2 linked regions of the Homo sapiens genome follow. The protein of the gene in region 1 interacts with the protein of each later gene in a biochemical or structural test. Each region holds a gene or a part of one and is shown on either strand. Other genes may lie near its edges.

Region 1 (3,826 bases):
ATTTTTCCACTGTATTATTTCAGAGATGTGTTCCCATAGAAAAGGAGTAACTATATCACCAATTTTAAACATCTCTACTTAAATTTTAATTTTAATATGTACTTCAGGGTGCATTCATTCATTAAGCAGATATTGATGGAATGTCTATTCTGTGCCAGTCACTGTTTTTCATGCTGGGGATATAATAGGGAACCAAATAAATTAGATTAAATCCCTGCCCTTGAGGAGCTTATATTTTAGTGGGTGAGACAGACAATAAACAAGATAAATAGGTAAAATATATGACATGTTAGATAACAGTAAATGTTAGAAGAAAAATAAAACAGGGAAGGGTAATATGAAATGTTAGCAGCAGGATAGAAATTTTAGATTAGGTGGCTTTTGAATAAAGACCTGAAGGAAGTGAGGGAGCTATATGCATTTATATGGAAGAAAAGTACTATAGGGAGGAGGATCAGCAACTGCAAAGATGCAAAGTCGCAAGGTACCTGGTACATCTAGGAACATCAAGGAGGCTCAGCTGGAGTTGGGGGTGGAGAGTAGTTGGAGACAAGTAGGGGACGTAATAGCAGCATTTTATGTAGGGTCTCATCAGTCATGGTGAGGATCTCAGCTTTTACTCCACACTGGGGGCCATTAGAGGGTTTTCAGCAGAAAAGTGATATAATTGATCTGACTAGGCTGGGCGCATGCCTGTAATCCCAGCACTTTGGGAGGCCAAGGCAGGCGTATCACCTGAGGTCGAGAGTTCGAGACCAGCCTGGCTAACATGGTGAAACTGCTTCTACTAAAAATACAAAAAATTAGCTGGGCGTGGTGGCATGCGCCTGTAATCCCAGCTACTTGGGAGCCTGAGGCAGGAGAATCACTTGAACCTGGGAAGCGGAGGTTGCAGTGAGCTGAGATGGTGCCATTGCGCTCCAGCCTGGGCAACAAGAGGGAAATTCCGTCTCAAAAAAAAAAAAAAAATTGATCTGACTTACATTTGAACAGGACATCAGGGGTACAAGGGCAGAAGCAGGCAGTCCACTTAGGGGCTGTTACGGTAATACAAGCAAGGGATGACGGTAGTGAAAGTGACGAGAGCAGGCTGAATCCAGGATATGTTTTGAAGTTAAAGTGATGAGAGCAGATGGGATGGTATATATGAGAAAAAGAATAAAAAATTACACCAAAGTTTCTGGCTTAAGCAACCACAAGAATGAAGTTGTCATTAATTGAGATAGGGTAAAGTGTAGGGGAAATGGTTTGGGAGGTATATCAGGAACTCAGTTTTGGACAAACTGAGTTTAAGGAGCCTATTAGGCTTACAGGTGGAGATGTCAAGCAGTCAGTTGGTTATATGGATTTGTAATTCAGAGGAAAGGCTGAAGATAAAACTCTGGGAGTCGGCAGCATATAGCTAGTTTTGGTTTTGTTTGGTTTGGGATTTTTTGGAGGCAGGGTCCACCTCTGTCTCCCAGGCTCTCAAGTGATCCTCCCCACTCAGCCTGAGTAACTGGGACCACAGGCGTGCACCACCATGCCCAGCTAATTTTTTTTTGTTATTTTAGAGATGATGTTTTGCCATATTGGCCAGGCTGGTCTCAGACTCCAGGACTTAAGGGATCTGCCCGCCTTGGCCTCCCAAAGTGCTGGAATTACATGTGTGAGTCACCACACCTGGCCATAGTTAGTTTTTAAAGCATTGAAACCAGATGAAGTTCCCAAGGGAGACAGCAGAGCTAGAAAAAGAGAAGTCCCAGGAATGAACCATGGGGTACTCCAACATTTACAGTTCATAGAAATGAGAAAGAACCCACAAGAGACTGAGAAGAAACAACCAGGAAGTGAGGAGGAAAACCAGCTACAGAGCCAAATGTGGTATTCTGTAAATCAAAATAAAAAAGTGTTTCAAGAAGTTCAGTGATTTTAAATCCTGTTGCTCGGTGGCTCACGCCTGTAATCCCAGCACTTTGGGAGGCTGAGGCGGGCGGATCACGAGGTCAGGAGATCGAGACCATCCTGGCTAACACGGTGAAACCCCATCTCTACTAAAAATAAAAAAAATCAGCCAGGCATGGTGGCGTGCATCTGTAGTCCCACCTAGTTGGGAAGCTGAGGCAGGAGAATCGCTTGAACCCAGGAGGCAGAGATTGCAGTGAGCCAAAATAGTGCCACTGCACTCCAGCCTGGGTGATAGAGCAAGACTCTGTCTAAAAAAATACCAAAAAAACAAATCCTGTTGATGGGCTAAAGAGGATAAGGACTGTTTATCAGTATATAATCTATATACGGTCAGTTTTCCACTTAGTCCCTGCAAGAACTCTGATACATAGTTAATCCATTAAACTACTTATTCTTTTTTTTTCTCCTGCCTCAGCCTCCCGAGTAGCTGGGACTACAGGCGGGCACCACCACGCCCAGCTCATTTTTGTATTTTTAGTAGAGACGGGGTTTCACCATGTTCCCCAGGCTAGTCTCCAATTCTTGGCTTCATGTGATCTGCCCACCTCTGTCTCCCAAAGTGCTAGGATTACAGGTGTGAGCCACCGCACCCGGCCTTACATATTCATTATAGCAAAGATGTATTTAGTTCCTGCTGTGTGGTATAGATATTATGTAAGTACCTGACACATGATGAATAAGACACTGTCACTACCTCTGAGAGAATCATAGGGTCATATAAACCTGTGGATGAGGTAAGGATAGATATCCCAGTTAAAAAGCCCCTAAACTGGGAGCTTCCTAAGGATAGGGTTCCCGTTTTCTTCTCTGTGTACCCATGCCTGGTACATGGATGATGCTCAGTAAAATGTTTGATGAATATATGCTGTGAAAACACAAAGAATAAAACAGTTAATGTACTGAGGGTAACAAAGATGGCTTCACAGAGGACGCAATATTTGAATCTTTTTTTTTTTTTTTTTGAGACGGAGTCTCGCTCTGTTGCCCAGGCTGGAGTGCAGTGGCACAATCTCGGCTCACTGCAAGCTCTGCCTCCCGGGTTCACACCATTCTCCTGCCTCAGTCTCCCAAGTAGCTGGGACAACAGGCGCCCGCCACCATGCCCAGCTAATTTTTTGGTTTTTTTTTTTTTTGAGTAGAGACGGGGTTTCACCATGTTAGCCAGGGTAGTCTCGATCTCCTGACCTCCTGATCCGCCCAGCTTGGCCTCTGAAAGTGCTGGGATTACAGGCGTGAGCCACTGCGCCCGGCCATATTTGAATCTTAAAAGAAGACTCAGGCATTCATCAGGATGTCAGAAATACAACTGACTATGGAACGTTTGCCTTTTTTCCACATATTTCTGTTTAAGCAGCCATAGAGGCTATCCGATGTTTAATAAAACTCCTTGACTTGCTGAGTGTGATGACTCATACCTGTAATCCCGGCAATTTGGGAGTCTGAAGCAGGAGGATGGCTTGAGGCCAGCAGTTGAAGGCTGCTGTGAGCTGTGATTGTGCCATGGCACCTCCAGCCTGGGTGACAGAGTGAGACCCTCTAAAAAAATTTTAAAAACATTTGACTAATGAGCAACATGGAGTTACCATTGTATGTAGCTCAGGTAGTTGTGTTTAGTAGTAAAATGTTAGTGTCACTTTAGGTGGAGTGGCATAACTTATAATGTTTTATAATCATTAATGCCTAGCTAATTTTTAGTCAGGAGGGTCTTAAGATTTCTTTGTAGTTTTACATGTTAACTGAACCCGGGCCAGGGACTGGCCATTCATAATATCATTTAATTATAGCTTGATATCTATCAGACTTACCTGTGGTACAACTACATGGTAAAGGAACATTAAAAATAATGGAATAGGCCTGCCACAGTGGCTCACGCCTATAA
Region 2 (3,826 bases), on another chromosome or scaffold:
TACAAAATATTTGGATAAAAAGCAAATTTCATCACATCGTATAATGTACAGATAAGGTTTATAAAGTAAATTAATTTATTTTTAGCACCATATATACAATCCAAACACTGCAAATTAATTTCTTTTCAAACTCAAAAGATAGTTTTCATTAATCATGATGGCACATCCTCTCTCTCAATAAACGCAAATGCTGTTTTATGGGCTGTGTGGTAATAGTTTAACATTTAGTAATTGATTATATAAAATTATGTTCTCAAGACTAGGCTGCATTTCCTTTAAAAAAAAAACAAAACCTCAGGTTAAAAATTAGCCAAAAATTTGTGATTACTATCACAAATAATCCAAGATTTAAATAACCAAGGGCCTCCAGAGGCCCCTGTTCTTCCTTTTGCCCTGTCTAAAATCCAATGAAATATATTAAGTGTTAAACTGGTATGAAGAGGTGGAACTAAATTCTTTGAAACACAAGGTGGAGTATCACTTTTTACTTAAACTTTGAGTCCTTTACATTTATAACTGCTATTCAAAAAAAATTAGACAAAGACATCTAGATTTAGATTAACGTGATCAAAGGGATTATTGTGGATCATTAAAGGAAACTTAACATTAAGCCTTCATGTACCAAATACTAATATTTAAATTAATTTCAAAATCTATAAAGGTATGTAATTATTAATTTGCAAAGGAGAAAACTGAGGCTCAGAAGTTGCACAAAACCATGAACTAGTGGAACTGAGCTTTACAAACCAAGGCTGTCCTCTACTATACATTATTTCTCCTCAGTACACAATAATAAATTGGTTCAAAATTATCTAGACCTTTAAAAAGTATATAATGGAAAGTGCTTTTAGTATTAAAGTTTTCATGAATGACCCTAACAAATTTTGTCTAAAAGTTTACTAAAATGCTGACATCATTTATAATCCTTCATTTATTTGTAAAAAGATGAGGACACACATTAAGTGAAGTGCAATTCATTTTGTCTTCTACAAAATAAGTTAATTTTAAGCAAACCAATCTCAATGATGATAAATGCATGTCATTATTTATTTAGATGTTTCAGCTCTCGCACTAAGTTTTTACAAGCTGGTGAACACTGACAAAATTATTTCTCCCACAGAACTATAACCACACATCCCCAGACAGTATAAATATATGGTTGAACTAACATTAATACACATCACCATTTTATCAATTACATAATAAAACAAATTGTCAAGTATCCAAATATTAAGTTACACAGCTCAAAAGGCATATAAAATATTAGATGTCTGCTCAATTCATTAGCAGAAACCCATTTCTTTTTTTGCAAGAGAGGTTGGGAAGGAAAAAAAAAATCACACTTTCAAACAAAAATAAGTTGGTAAACACACTTCTGATAAGTATGGGAAAAAAATTACAAGAATTTCAGGAAGTTTATGATTACAATAACAAAGCATCTCTACCTTTTAAAAAAATATTTTACTAAATTAAAGAGCATATTCTACATGTTTGCACAAGACAAAGGCAACATTTTGCTAAAAATAATTAATAGCCCCCTCCCATTCTTTTCTCAGGCCCTCCCTGTTAAGTTGCACCTCAGAGTGCAAACATTAAATTAATGTAAGGCTTTTTTGTCTGAAGACATTAAAGACATGTGCTTCTGTACAACGTAGATTTTCAAAATGGAGGTTTTTTTAATACAGCACAAAGTGAGATACATGGAAACACGTAAAATAATCACTGTAAGACTTGGTAAAAAAAAAAAAAAATCAATGGTTAAGCAAACCTGACGTATATTGGTATGAATGTGGGAGATGTAAACATAAAGTGAGCAGGCAAATAACCATGTAGGCCCTACTTTCAATGTTTGAAATGATTGAAGGAATAAACCACATAAGGTCTAGTGTTCATAGTTCCTGGGATTTTACTTCTGTATGGTACTAAAAATATACAAGTATTGTGCTGGGTATTTTGGCACCTAATCTTCCTAAATTTCTTATGTATTGATAAGATTCTGGCATGGGAATAGATTTAACAAGTCATAACTCAATACTGCATGATTTGGGGAAAGGTCAATTGATACAAATGACAAGCACATTTTATATGCTGACAGCAAGAATCTTTTGCCAAGTATCCAAATAGGTTGACTGTAACCCAAATACAGAGGTTGCCAAATCTGTCTAGCTTGAGGCCTGGTAAAACTGCCTTTCAATACTCCTATGGAAGCTTCATTAGACTTACTAAGCCAACATGTTGGCTAATATGTATAACAAATTAGGCCCTATCTCAAGTTCCACTTCCAGTAGCATTAGGCACCCCAATTTTATTGAATGCAACAGTTGTTTCTATGACCGTTGGAATCTTTGAAACGCAGCCGCATTTTAGGACGATACTTCTCCAAATACAGAAGTTGCTTGCTGTTAAAAGCTCCACGCCGCTTTCTGGGAGGAAAAAAAAAAAAAAATGAAACAAGGCAAAAGCCCCCTACAGTAATATTTAGTGTCTTATAGACAACCATCACCTCTCTTGTGGCAATTTATCTTTTGATTAATTAGGCTGTGACCTGATGCAGAAAGGAATATGAACAGGCACATCAGTGTAAATGGAAAAAATCATAAAAAGTTAATTTTCTTTATATCTTCGTTTGAGTATTGGTTACAACAGTCGACTCACAAATCCATTTACACGTAAGTCCACGAAAAGACAAAACTAATTTATAGTGAAGTCAGAAGTTGCCTCTGGTAGCAGGGAAGATGACTACAAAAGCCACAAAGGCATGTTCTACAGCACTCAAAATATTCTATGTGTTGTATTGGATGGTTAATTTGGCTGTTATTGTCAACTGGTCTCCTTTGGAGACCTGTGCATTTTATTGTATCTTTAAATGTATCTTAATTATACCTCAATAAAAATACAAAATAACCAACATATTCAATCAAGTATTTAAAGCAAAACAATAATTCAAAAACTCTTGTTGGATTAGAATCTTAGTAATATGAGCAACTGCATGAAATGCAAAAAAGAATGTAAGATCTTGATTTCCTGGTTTTAATACTATCTCAAAAAATAATCATAATGATTAAATGGGCTATTAGACTATTAAACTCACTGACACTCAACAAGGAAATGAAAGAGAGTACAAATGAAAAGAGAATCCATTACTTACTGTCTTATGAATTGTACTGCATCTTCGTATTTCATTCCACCTTCAATTAATGCTAGGGCAACAAGTACTGGAGCTCTGGTGAGGTAAGAATTTTGATAAATAGTTTTTTCAAAATCAGATCTTTGTAAATTTATTTCTCCAAACATTCCCCAACTCAGAAGTATTATCTACCACCCTTCCTATTTAAGTAATACCTATGACAAATGTTGACTTTATATTAAAAAATTATAAGAATTTTTCAAGTTTCTGTATTTTCATTATCAATAGATTTTTACCTAGAATCAAATTGATAAATTCATTTACCTCCCAAGGCCTGCAACGCAATGAACAGCAATACAACAACCAGGTTCTTCACGAAACTTAATTTTCACAAGACTTAACCAGTCATCAACAATCTGGTTGGATGGTGGTGCACCATCATCAAAAGGCCAATCCTAAGTCAGAAGAATATTTAAACATTTTAGATCATTAATATAAACACTGTAGTAATAATTCTAAATTTCTAACATGGAAATGTTTTCAAAAGCATTCTCATTTTAATGTTTAATCAAATCTTATTAAACCCTGTTGTCTACCAAATGTGACTAAATGCTCAATCTTTACAAAAATGTTTCACAACTTCAAATCCTTGCTTAGCTTTTCACCTTTATTTAGAAATTAAGATTCTGCACAATAATA

Evidence for each region.
Region 2: the proteins of ATF7 (region 1) and PTP4A1 form a complex in vitro, tested with the Homo sapiens proteins (one study listed by BioGRID).

What each region holds. Positions count from the first base shown.
Region 1 is NC_000012.12:53,518,137-53,521,962, reverse strand, and holds part of ATF7 (cyclic AMP-dependent transcription factor ATF-7), read left to right. Parts: intron 1-3,826. UniProt on the Homo sapiens protein: Stress-responsive chromatin regulator that plays a role in various biological processes including innate immunological memory, adipocyte differentiation or telomerase regulation.
Region 2 is NC_000006.12:63,578,654-63,582,479, reverse strand, and holds part of PTP4A1 (protein tyrosine phosphatase type IVA 1), read right to left. Parts: exon of another isoform or gene 3,583-3,826; coding exon 3,452-3,582; exon of another isoform or gene 3,224-3,451; coding exon 3,149-3,223; exon of another isoform or gene 2,467-3,148; coding exon of another isoform or gene 2,424-2,466; coding exon 2,306-2,423; coding exon of another isoform or gene 2,269-2,305; 3' UTR 1-2,268. UniProt on the Homo sapiens protein: Protein tyrosine phosphatase which stimulates progression from G1 into S phase during mitosis. May play a role in the development and maintenance of differentiating epithelial tissues.